Linked DNA regions of Homo sapiens: region 1 is linked to region 2. The links come from fine-mapping of genetic effects on gene expression. Tissue or cell type: whole blood. Region 2 holds a variant in brackets; the other region holds the start of a gene. All regions are shown on one strand. Distances are from middle to middle.

Region 1 (5,000 bases), 53 kb after region 2:
TTTCTTTTGAAAGTAGAAAAATCTAAGCAACAACATTTATTTGGGGATTTCTTTGTAGTGTTTTGTGGTATCACTGATGATCAGGTTTTTAAAAAATTACTTGATTCAAAGATATAATCTTGAAACACAAAAATTTACAAATTATCAAAGAAATACACAAAAACATTAAGTATTGAAAAAGGAAAATGTAAGAATTAAGTTTGCAAGCAAACCTGCAAAAATTACAAGAGAGTTATACTTCAAAAGGACTGGCTGGCCAAATAAAAAAACATAGCAAGTATTTTTTTAAAAATCCCACAAAATTACTAAGGTTCTTAGGTTTACATTAGACCATCCATAATGAGAAACAGCAATTTCAGCACTATCATTGCATTCATAAAGATGGTGACATTACCTTCAGGTAGATGTGGCTAGGGAGTCTTGACTTAGGGGACAAAGTCAAGGTTTCATTACTTAAAAGACAAGAACCAATCACCTTTATTTTTATCTCAGGGTACAAAGTACTTTTTTCAATGGTAGAATGTCAAGTGCTTTGTAGTACTGAAATCAGAGGAAAGTGTCCGATTTTGCTTCTACAAAATGCACAATTTTACTTGTTGACTATTTTCTACTCCTCCCTTACCATGAGCACACAGGGCTTCATGTGATTATTTTAAAGAGGATGCATAATTCGATTGCTATGCCTCTTCAGATACCTTCTTTGTGAATTTTTCAAATTTGCTCTGGCCCAAATATTGGTGTTCCTATATAGTTCTTATCCCACCTAATGTACACAGACACCCTTTAATATGTACCTATAATCAACCACCCATGTTAACTTCTTGTTTAACATATTATCAAAGCCAGGCTGCAAGTATAACCCTGTCATTTAAGAAATACGGAAAATAAGAAAAAAATCTTAAAATAAGCTTCATGATGAACTTAAAAAGAATAGTTACTTTAAAAGATGTAGAAACAACATAGATAAATTTAAAGTTTTTAGGGGAAAAAATCCTTAAACCCACGTACTAAATTTTTAATATTTCCACTACAGAAGTTAAATGCCCAAACTGATTTGGTATCAAAATTAAAGTGTCAGAAATAGAATTAAGTTATAACTTTTATTTATCACCATTTTAACATATACTTAAAAGTGGAATTTATTGTTTTGCTGGAATACTTAATAACATTAATTTGAAATAAAGCTTCTAAATATTTCCGGGGCTATAATTCCATTCTTACAACATAATTTTTAAAATAATAAATCATTCCAAAAAAGGATGATCATAAAGAGATTAGCGTTTGGGGTAGTTAACCCAGTTCCTATTTATCTATCCATTCAAGAGGTAACTCAGTTTTAAGGATGTTGTTAGAAACATTATTTCACAGTGATTCAAACCTTTCAGCCTATGCACAACCTACAAATGCATAATCGTTTGAAATAAAAATTGCCTTTCCATCATTAAAGAAAAATCATCTTTGTTTTCTTTTTCAGTCCTTCTGAACTTATTACCCTGCTTGGATATGCTGCACTCTTCTGGACATAGAATTTCATAGCAGGTATCAAAATAACCAAGCCATAAAGCCAGCTTTATCAAACAATAATTTCCTATTAACAAGAACTTTGAGTGTATTACTCATTTTACACAAAACAAGTAGACGACAAATAATGATGGTTAAAATTAATAATTAAATGATTAAATGAAAACTAGTAAGGATTTCTGATTACTTTTCTACTTTCTCATACAGCTTAACACCTGGAAACAACTGTACTGGAGCCACCTTCCCGAAAGGTGCCAGCTGTTTCCTTTGTCTTAAGCACAAACAGAACTAATGTCACATTTCCAGAGAAGGGTAAGGATGAAATAAGGCGACTACAAACCAGCTTTCAGAAATGCGAAGTCAGTCAACGTTTTCCTCTCTGATAACCCCTTATTTGTGGAGCAACAGGAGAATTACAACACATTTTGGAAAATAATTTCTATTGGACCAACTCCTCACTTCGCTGGAAGTAGTCGGATCCAAGACTTAATTTCAACACAGTGTTCGACTTATTGCTTGAAGCTACCGCAGCATAAAACTCGTCTTCGAATGGAAAATTTGACCAACTTCTATGAGGTAAATGAATAGTGAAAGTACGGGTGGGCGGGAGAGACATACAAGTTTTTTCGGTTTTTTGTTTTTTGGGGGAAGAAAGGGCGCATACGAAAAAAGTCCTAAGCAAGCACAGAACTGTGTCTCTTAGGATGTAAAAGGATGTTATACCAGAGAGCTCAAAAGCTCCCAGGGTCACGGCTCCCCTAACCGAGGGACTTGGGGTTTCACTGCTACCAGGCACCCGGGGAACCCCGGCCTTGGATAAAAAGAGGGTAACTGGAGTAAAGCCGTGCTTCTGAACGACCCAGCGCCCAGGACCCCCTGCCAGACCCCGCCTTTCCCGGGACCCCCTCGGGAGCGCCCCCGACCGCCCCGCACGGGTCGGAGGAGGAGGCAGAGAGGTCCCGCGCGGACCCAGGCGCCTCCCGGGCCAGTCGAGGATCAACCACCCCGGGGACCCCTGCCGAGGCCAGCGCAGGATAAACTCCCCGACCCCGAACTCTGCCTGCCGCTTCTCGGCGCTGGGCCTCAGCCACGGGTTCGACCGTCCTCCTCACCGCGGCTCCCGCCTACCTCGCGCCTCCCGGCCCCGCGACCTCCCCGCCGCCGGCCGGGCCCCGCCGAGGCTGCGCTTCCCGTAAACTCCCCGCCCCGCGCATCCCCCTCCTCGCCTCGGCCCCGCCCCCGCGGGACCCTGGGCGGCGCGTGATTGGCCCGGCCGCGCCGTCACTCTCCGGCCGCGTCGCCTCCCTCGCTTTCCACCGCCCCAAGACCGGCAGTGAGATTAGTGCTCGCGGGGCCGCGGCGGAGTGTACCGTGCTGCTCTACTCGCTGCCATTCGCCCGCAGGTCGGCGCGCTCGCCCACCTGAGCCGCGCCGGGGCTGCGGGACCGTGGGACAGCGCGCTCAGCCCAGCCTAGGAAAGAGGCAGCAGTCTCAGCGCGGAGATGGGGAGCGGGCGAAGTTGACGAGTCTCCCGCCCACGCTGCGCCCCTCCTGCCCAGAGGTGCGCTGCCCCTCCCCGAGGTGCTCGCGCGCTGCCCTGACCCCTTCCTGCGCGGGACACCCCTCCCCTACCCACGGGACCTGATAACTTCACCCCAAGTCCAGAGAGTGGGCTGCGAGGGCGGTGCCCGGACTGGACAGGACTCTGCTTAAGGGGAGCGGTCCTGGAGGCTCGCCAGGAGTCGGAGGGCGGAGACCCGCTGGAAACTTTATCATCGCCGTAATTACTACGTTTTACTGTTTCTCTCCCCGCAGGGGCTGCAGCCAGCGGTCTGTCGCGCGTGCCTGTGTGCCCGAGGAGCCGCCCCGGGGAGAAGACCCGGCGCGGAGTTGTTCCCCCAGGGAGGATCCGCAGCCCAGCCGAGGGGGTCGGGCGGCCTGGCTACGCAGGACCCAGCCCCGCAGCCGCGGACTCCCAGCGGCGGCGAAGTTTGGCTGCTGAGCGGCGCGGCGCCGGACCACTGGACAGCGGGAGCGATGCCCGTGGGGGGCCTGTTGCCGCTCTTCAGCAGCCCCGCGGGCGGCGTCCTGGGCGGGGGGCTCGGCGGCGGCGGTGGCAGGAAGGGGTCGGGCCCCGCCGCCCTCCGCCTGACGGAGAAGTTCGTGCTGCTGCTGGTATTCAGCGCCTTCATCACGCTCTGCTTCGGGGCGATCTTCTTCCTGCCAGACTCCTCCAAGCTGCTCAGCGGGGTCCTGTTCCACTCCAGCCCCGCCTTGCAGCCGGCCGCCGACCACAAGCCCGGGCCCGGGGCGCGCGCCGAGGACGCGGCCGAGGGGCGAGCCCGGCGCCGCGAGGAGGGGGCACCCGGGGACCCGGAGGCCGCCCTGGAGGACAACTTGGCCAGGATCCGCGAAAACCACGAGCGGGCTCTCAGGGAAGCCAAGGAGACCCTGCAGAAGCTGCCCGAGGAGATCCAAAGAGACATCCTACTGGAGAAGAAGAAGGTGGCCCAGGACCAGCTGCGTGACAAGGCGCCGTTCAGAGGCCTGCCCCCGGTGGACTTCGTGCCCCCAATCGGGGTGGAGAGCCGGGAGCCCGCCGACGCCGCCATCCGCGAGAAAAGGGCAAAGATCAAAGAGGTGAGTGGGCCGCGCCAGAAATCCCTCCCGACCGGCCGTGTTTTTCAGGGAGAAACGGCAAGCCTTTGAAACTCTGAAGACTGCAACAATGCAATGTATGGGGAGATGGAGGTTTGCCCCTTCCACCAGGTGCTGTGTCAAAAGCTCTTTCTTTTCCTGTTTCCAATATAGTAGTAGATGTGTCCAGTAAGATCTAAGGTCAAATCTCGTTGCTTTTAATTTGCATGCTCTTGCTCTGGTGACCACAAGCCACACGAGGTGGGTATAAATACATGGGCAGGTAATACGCAAACCTCATTCTCTGGCCGCTACACGGTTAATCGCCCCACCAGTAACAGCGACGGCACTGATCAGCCCCCTGGTAAGGATTGGGGACGTGGCTTTAAAGTGAGTCTTCACGCGTGGTAAAGCTAGCCAGCATACCCCGGGTTCAGCTGTGTGGCCCTTGTCTGCCAGGTGGCATTCTGTGTGTACTTTCAGACTATAAAGGTGAAACCTGAGAACTTCCCATCATCGAGGGATACTATTGTTTACTTTTTTAAAAAATGAAAATATAAAAAGCCAGTCGGCTGCCTCTTGTATTTCTAATGCACAGCCAGAAATAGGGTATTCCATGTGATGCAACAGGTTTGCCTCCACAGCAGCACAATGGTGACAAAGTTAATCCAGGATAAACATGGACTTTGATACATCTTTCCTAATTTCCTTCTCGTAATTTTCAGTTAGAACTTGAAACATGTGATTAGGTCAGGACCAGCTTAAAGCTGAAGGGGGCCGTAAAAAGTCCTTTCAGGCTGTCATTTTCAAGATGAAGATCGAAGGGCCCAGAGCTCTAGAAC
Region 2 (5,519 bases):
GGTTCCAAGTCTTTGCTATTGTGAATAGAACTGCAATAAACATACCTGTGCATGTGTCTTTATAGCAGCATGATTTATAATCCTTTGGGTATATACCCAGTAATGGAATGGCTGGGTAAAATGGTATTACTAGTTCTAGATCCCTGAGGAATTGCCACACTGACTTCCACCATGGTTGAACTCGTTTACAGTCCCACCACCAGTGTAAAAGTGTTCCTATTTCTCCACATCCTCTCCAGCACCTGTTGTTTCCTGAATTTTTAATGATTGCCATTCTAACTGGTGTGAGATGGTATCTCATTGTGGTTTTGATTTGCATTCTCTGATGGCCAGTGATGATGAGCATTTTTTCATGTGTGTTTTGGCTGCATAAATGTCTTCTTTTGAGAAGTGTCTGTTCATACCCTTCGCCCACTTGTTGATGGGGTTGTTTTTTTCTTGTAAATTTGTTGGAGTTCATTGTAGATTCTGTAGATGAGTAGATTGCAAAAATTTTCTCCCATTTTGTGGGTTGCCTGTTCACTCTGATGGTAGTTTCTTTTGCTGTGCAGAAGCTCCTTAGTTTAATTAGATCCCATTTGTCAATTTTGGCTTTTGTTGCCATTGCTTTTGGTGTTTGGGCAAAGACATGAAGTCCTTGCCCATGCCTGTTTCCTGAATGGTATTGCCTAGGTTTTCTTCTAGGGTTTTTATGGTTTTCAGTCTAACATGTAAGTCTTTAATCCATCTTGAATTAACTTTTGTGTAAGGTGTAAGGAAGGGATCCAGTTTCAGCATTCTACATATGGCTAGCCAGTTTTCCCAGCACCATTTATTAAATAGGGAATCCTTTCCCCATTTCTTGTTTTTGTCAGGTTTGTCAAAGATAAGATGGTTGTAGATATGCAGCATTATTACTGAGGGCTCTGTTCTGTTCCATTGATCTATATCTCTGTTTTGGTACCAGTACCATGCTGTTTTGGTTACTGTAGCCTTGTAGTATAGTTTGAAGTCAGGTAGCGTGATGCCTCCAGCTTTGTTCTTTTGGCTTAGGATTGACTTGGTGATGCAGGCTCTTTTTTGGTTCCATATGAACTTGAAAGTAGTTTTTTTCCAATTCTGTGAAGAAAGTCATTGGTAGCTTGATGGGGATGGCATTGAATCTATAAATTACCTTGGGCAGTATGGCCATTTTCACAATGTTGATTCTTCCTACCCATGAGCATGGAATGTTCTTCCATTTGTTTGTATCCTCTTTTATTTCATTGAGCAGTGGTTTGCAGTTCCCCTTGAAGAGGTCCTTCATGTCCCTTGTAAGTTGGATTCCTAGGTATTTTATTCTCTTTGAAGCAATTGTGAATGGGAGTTCACTCATGATTTGGCTCTCTGTTTGTCTGTTGTTGGTGTATAAGAATGCTTGTGATTTTTGCACATTGATTTTGTATCCTGAGACTTTGCTGAAGTTGCCTATCAGCTTAAGGAGATTTTGGGCTGAGACGATGGGGTTTTCTAAATATACAAACATGTCATCTGCAAACAGGGACAATTTGCCTTCCTCTTTTCCTAATTGAATACCCTTTATTTCCTTCTCCTGCCTGATTGCCCCAGCCAGAACTTCCAACACTGTGTTGAATAGGAGTGGTGAGAGAGGGCATCCCTGTCTTGTGCCAGTTTTCAAAGGGAATGCTTCCAGTTTTTGCTCATTCAATATGATATTGGCTGTGGGTTTGTCATAGATAGCTCTTATTATTTTGAGATATGTCCCATCAGTACCTAATTTATTGAGAGTTTTTAGCATGAAGGTTTGTTGAATTTTGTCAAAGGCCTTTTCTGCATCTAATGAGATAATCATATGGTTTTTGTAGTTGGTTCAGTTTATATGCTGGATCATGTTTATTGATTTGCATATGTTGAACCAGCCTTGCATCCCAGGGATGAAGCCCACTTGATCATGGTGGATAAGTTTTTGATGTGCTGCTGGATTCGGTTTGCCAGTATTTTATTGAGGATTTTTGCACTGATGTTCGTCAGGGGTATTGGTCTAAAATTCTCTTTTTTGGTTGTGTCTCTGCCAGGCTTTGGTATCAGGATGATGCTGGCCTCATAAAATGAGTTAGGGAGGATTCCCTCTTTTTCTGTTGATTGGAATAGTTTCAGAAGGAATCGTACCAGCTCCTCCTTGTACCTCTGGTAGAATTCGGCTGTGAATCCATCTGGTCCTGGACTTTTTTTGGTTGGTAAGCTATTAATTATTGCCTCAATTTCAGAGCCTGTTATTGGTCTATTCAGAGATTCAGCTTCTTCCTGGTTTAGTCTTGGGAGGGTGTATGTGTCGAGGAATTTATCCCTTTCTTCTAGATTTTCTAGTTTCTTTGCGTATAGGTGTTTATAGTATTCTCTGATGGTAGTTTGTACTTCTTGGAGATCGGTGGTGATATCTCCTTTATCATTTTTTATTGTGTCTATTTGATTCTTCTCCCTTAATTTTTCTTTATTAGGCTTGCTAGCAGTCTATCAATTTTGTTGATCTTTTCAAAAAACCAGCTCCTGGATTCATTGATTTTTTCGAAGGGTTTTTTGTGTCTCTATTTCCTTCAGTTCTGCTCTGATCTTAAGTTATTTCTTGCCTTCTGCTAGCTTTTGCATGTGTTTGCTCTTGCTTTTCTAGTTCTTTTAATTATGATGTTAGGGTGTCAATTTTAGAACTTTCCTGCTTTCTCTTGTGGGCATTTAGTGCTATAAATTTCCCTCTA[C/T]ACACTGCTTTGAATGTGTCCCAGAGATTCTGGTATGTTGTGTCTTTGTTCTTGTTGGTTTCAAAGAACATCTTTATTTCTGCCTTCATTTCATTATGTACCCAGTAGTCATTCAGGAGCAGGTTGTTCAGTTTCCAGGCAGTTGAGCGGTTTTGAGTGAGTTTCTTAATCCTGAGTTCTACTTTGGTCTGAGAGACAGTTTGTTATAGTTTCTGTTCTTTTATATTTGCTGAGGAGTGCTTTACTTCCAACTATGTGATCAATTTTGGAATAAGTGCAGTGTGGTGCTGAGAAGAATGTATATTCTGTTGATTTGGAGTGGAGAGTTCTGTATATGTCTATTAGGTCCACTTGTTGCAGAGCTGAGTCCAATTCCTGGATATCCTTGTTAACTTTCCGTCTCATTGATCTGTCTAATGTTGACAGTGGGGTGTTAAACTCTCCCATTATTATTGTGTGGGAGTCTAAGTCTCTTTGTAGTTCTCTAAGGACTTTCTTTATGAATCTGGGTGCTCCTGTATTGGGTGCATATATATTTAGGATAGTTAGCTCTTCTTGTTGAATTGATCCCTTTACCATTATGTAATGGCCTTCTTTGTCTCTTTTGATCTTTGTTGGTTCAAAGTCTGTTTTATCAGAGACTAGGATTGCAACCCCTGCCTTTTTTTGTTTTCCATTTGCTTGGCAGATCTTCCTCCATCCCTTTATTTTGAGCCTATGTGTGTCTCTGCACATGAGATGGGTCTCCTGAATACAGCACACTGATGGGTCTTGACTCTTTATCCAATTTGCCAGTCTGTGTCTTTTAATTGGAGCATTTAGCCCATTTACATTTAAGGTTAATATTGTTATGTGTGAATTTGATCCTGTCATTATGATGTTAGCTGGTTATTTTGCTCGTTAGTTGATGCAGTTTCTTCCTAGTCTCAATGGTCTTTACAATTAGGCATGTTTTTGCAGTGGCTAGTACCAGTTGTTCCTTTCCATGTTTAGTGCTTCCTTCAGGAGCTCTTTTAGGGCAGGCCTGGTGGTGACAAAATCTCCCAGCATTTGCTTGTCTGTAAAGGATTTTATTTCTCCTTCACTTATGAAGCTTAGTTTGGCTGGATATGAAATTCTGGGTTGAAAATTCTTTTCTTTAAGAATGTTAAATATTGGCCCCCACTCTCTTCTGGCTTGTAGAGTTTCTGCCGAGAGATCCGCTGTTGGTCTGATGGGCTTCCCTTTGTGGGTAACCTGACCTTTCTCTCTGATTGCCTGTAACATTTTTTCCTTCATTTCAACTTTGGTGTATCTGACAATTATGTGTCTTGGAGTTGCTCTTCTCGAGGAGTATCTTTGTGGCATTCTCTGTATTTCCCGAATTTGAATGTTGGCCTGCCTTGCTAGATTGGGGAAGTTCTCCTGGATAATATTCTGCAGAGTGTTTTCCAACTTGGTTCCATTCTCCCCATCACTTTCAGGTACACCAATCAGACGTAGATTTGGTCTTTTCACATAGTCCCATATTTCTTGGAGGCTTTGTTTGCTTCTTTTTATTCTTTTTTCTCTAAACTTCTCTTCTTGCTTCATTTCATTCATTTGATCTTCCATCACTGATACTCTTTCTTCCAATTGATCAAATCGGCTACTGAGGCTCGTGCATTTGTCACATAGTTCTCGTGCCTTGGTTTTCAGCTCCATCAGGTCCTTTAAGGACTTCTCTGCATTGGTTATTCTAGTTAGCCATTCATCTAAATTTTTTCCAAGGTTTTTAACTTCTTTGCCATGGGTTCAGACTTCCTCCTTTAGCTCGGAGTAGTTTGATCTTCTGAAGCCTTTTTCTCTCAACTCGTCAAAGTCATTCTCCATCCAACTTTGTTCTGTTGCTAGTGAGGAGCTGCGTTTCTTTGGAGGAAGAGAGGCACTCTGATTTTCAGTTTCCAGTTTTTCTCCTCTGTTTTTTCCCCATCTTTGTGGTTTTATCTACCTGTGGTCTTTGATGATGGTGACGTACAGATGGGGTTTTGGTGTGGATGTCCTTTCTGTTTGTTAGTTTTCCTTCTAACAGTCAGGACCCTCAGCTACAGGTCTGTTGGAGTTTGCTGGAGGTCTACTCCAGACCCTGTTGGCCTGGGTATCAGCAGCGGAGGCTGCAGAACAGCGGATATTAGTGAACAGCAAATGTTGCTGTCTGATCATTCCTCTGGAAGTTTTGCCTCAGAGGAGGACCCGGCAGTGTGATGTGTCAGTCTGCCCCTACTGGGGGGTGCCTCCCAGTTAGGCTATTCGGGGGTCAGGGACCCACTTGAGGAGGCTGTCTGTCCGTTCTCAGATCTCCAGCTGCCTGCTGGGAGAACCACTACTCTCTTCAAAGCTGTCAGACAGGGACATTTAAGTCTGCAGAGGATTCTGCTGCCTTTTGTTTGGCAATGCCCTGCCCCCAGAGGTGGAGTCTACAGAGGCAGGCAGGCCTCCTTGAGCTGCGGTGAGCTCCACCCAGTTCGAGCTCCCCGGCTGCTTTGTTTACCTACTCAAGCCTTGGCAATGGCGGGCGCCCCTCCCCCAGCCTCGCTGCCGCCTTGCAGTTTGATCTCAGACTGCTGTGCTAGCAATGAGCGAGGCTCCATGGGCGTAGGACCCTCCGAGCCATGCACGGGATATAATCTCCTGGTGTGCCGTTTGCTAAGACCATTGGAAAAGCGCAGTATTAGGGTGGGAGTGACCCAATTTTCCAGGTGCCATCTGTCACCCCTTTCTTTGACTAGGAAAGGGAATTCCCTGACCCCTTGTGCTTCCCAGGTGAGG

Evidence for each region.
Region 1: it holds the start of MAN1A1, and the variant in region 2 is fine-mapped to the expression of MAN1A1 in whole blood (TOPMed, PIP above 0.99).

Annotation. Positions count from the first base shown.
Region 1 is chr6:119,347,624-119,352,623 of GRCh38, reverse strand. MAN1A1 (mannosidase alpha class 1A member 1) reads left to right here and starts at 2,863. Exons shown (of 13, transcript NM_005907.4): 1 at 2,863-3,082; 2 at 3,337-4,161. The coding sequence starts at 3,559. RefSeq lists silencers at 2,303-2,942, 3,453-3,652, 3,713-3,832 and an enhancer at 4,043-4,392.
Region 2 is chr6:119,400,174-119,405,692 of GRCh38, reverse strand. No RefSeq gene overlaps it. Among named protein-coding and RNA genes, the nearest start is that of MAN1A1, 53 kb to the right of the region's middle. The variant C/T (reference allele first, on the strand shown) is at 2,733.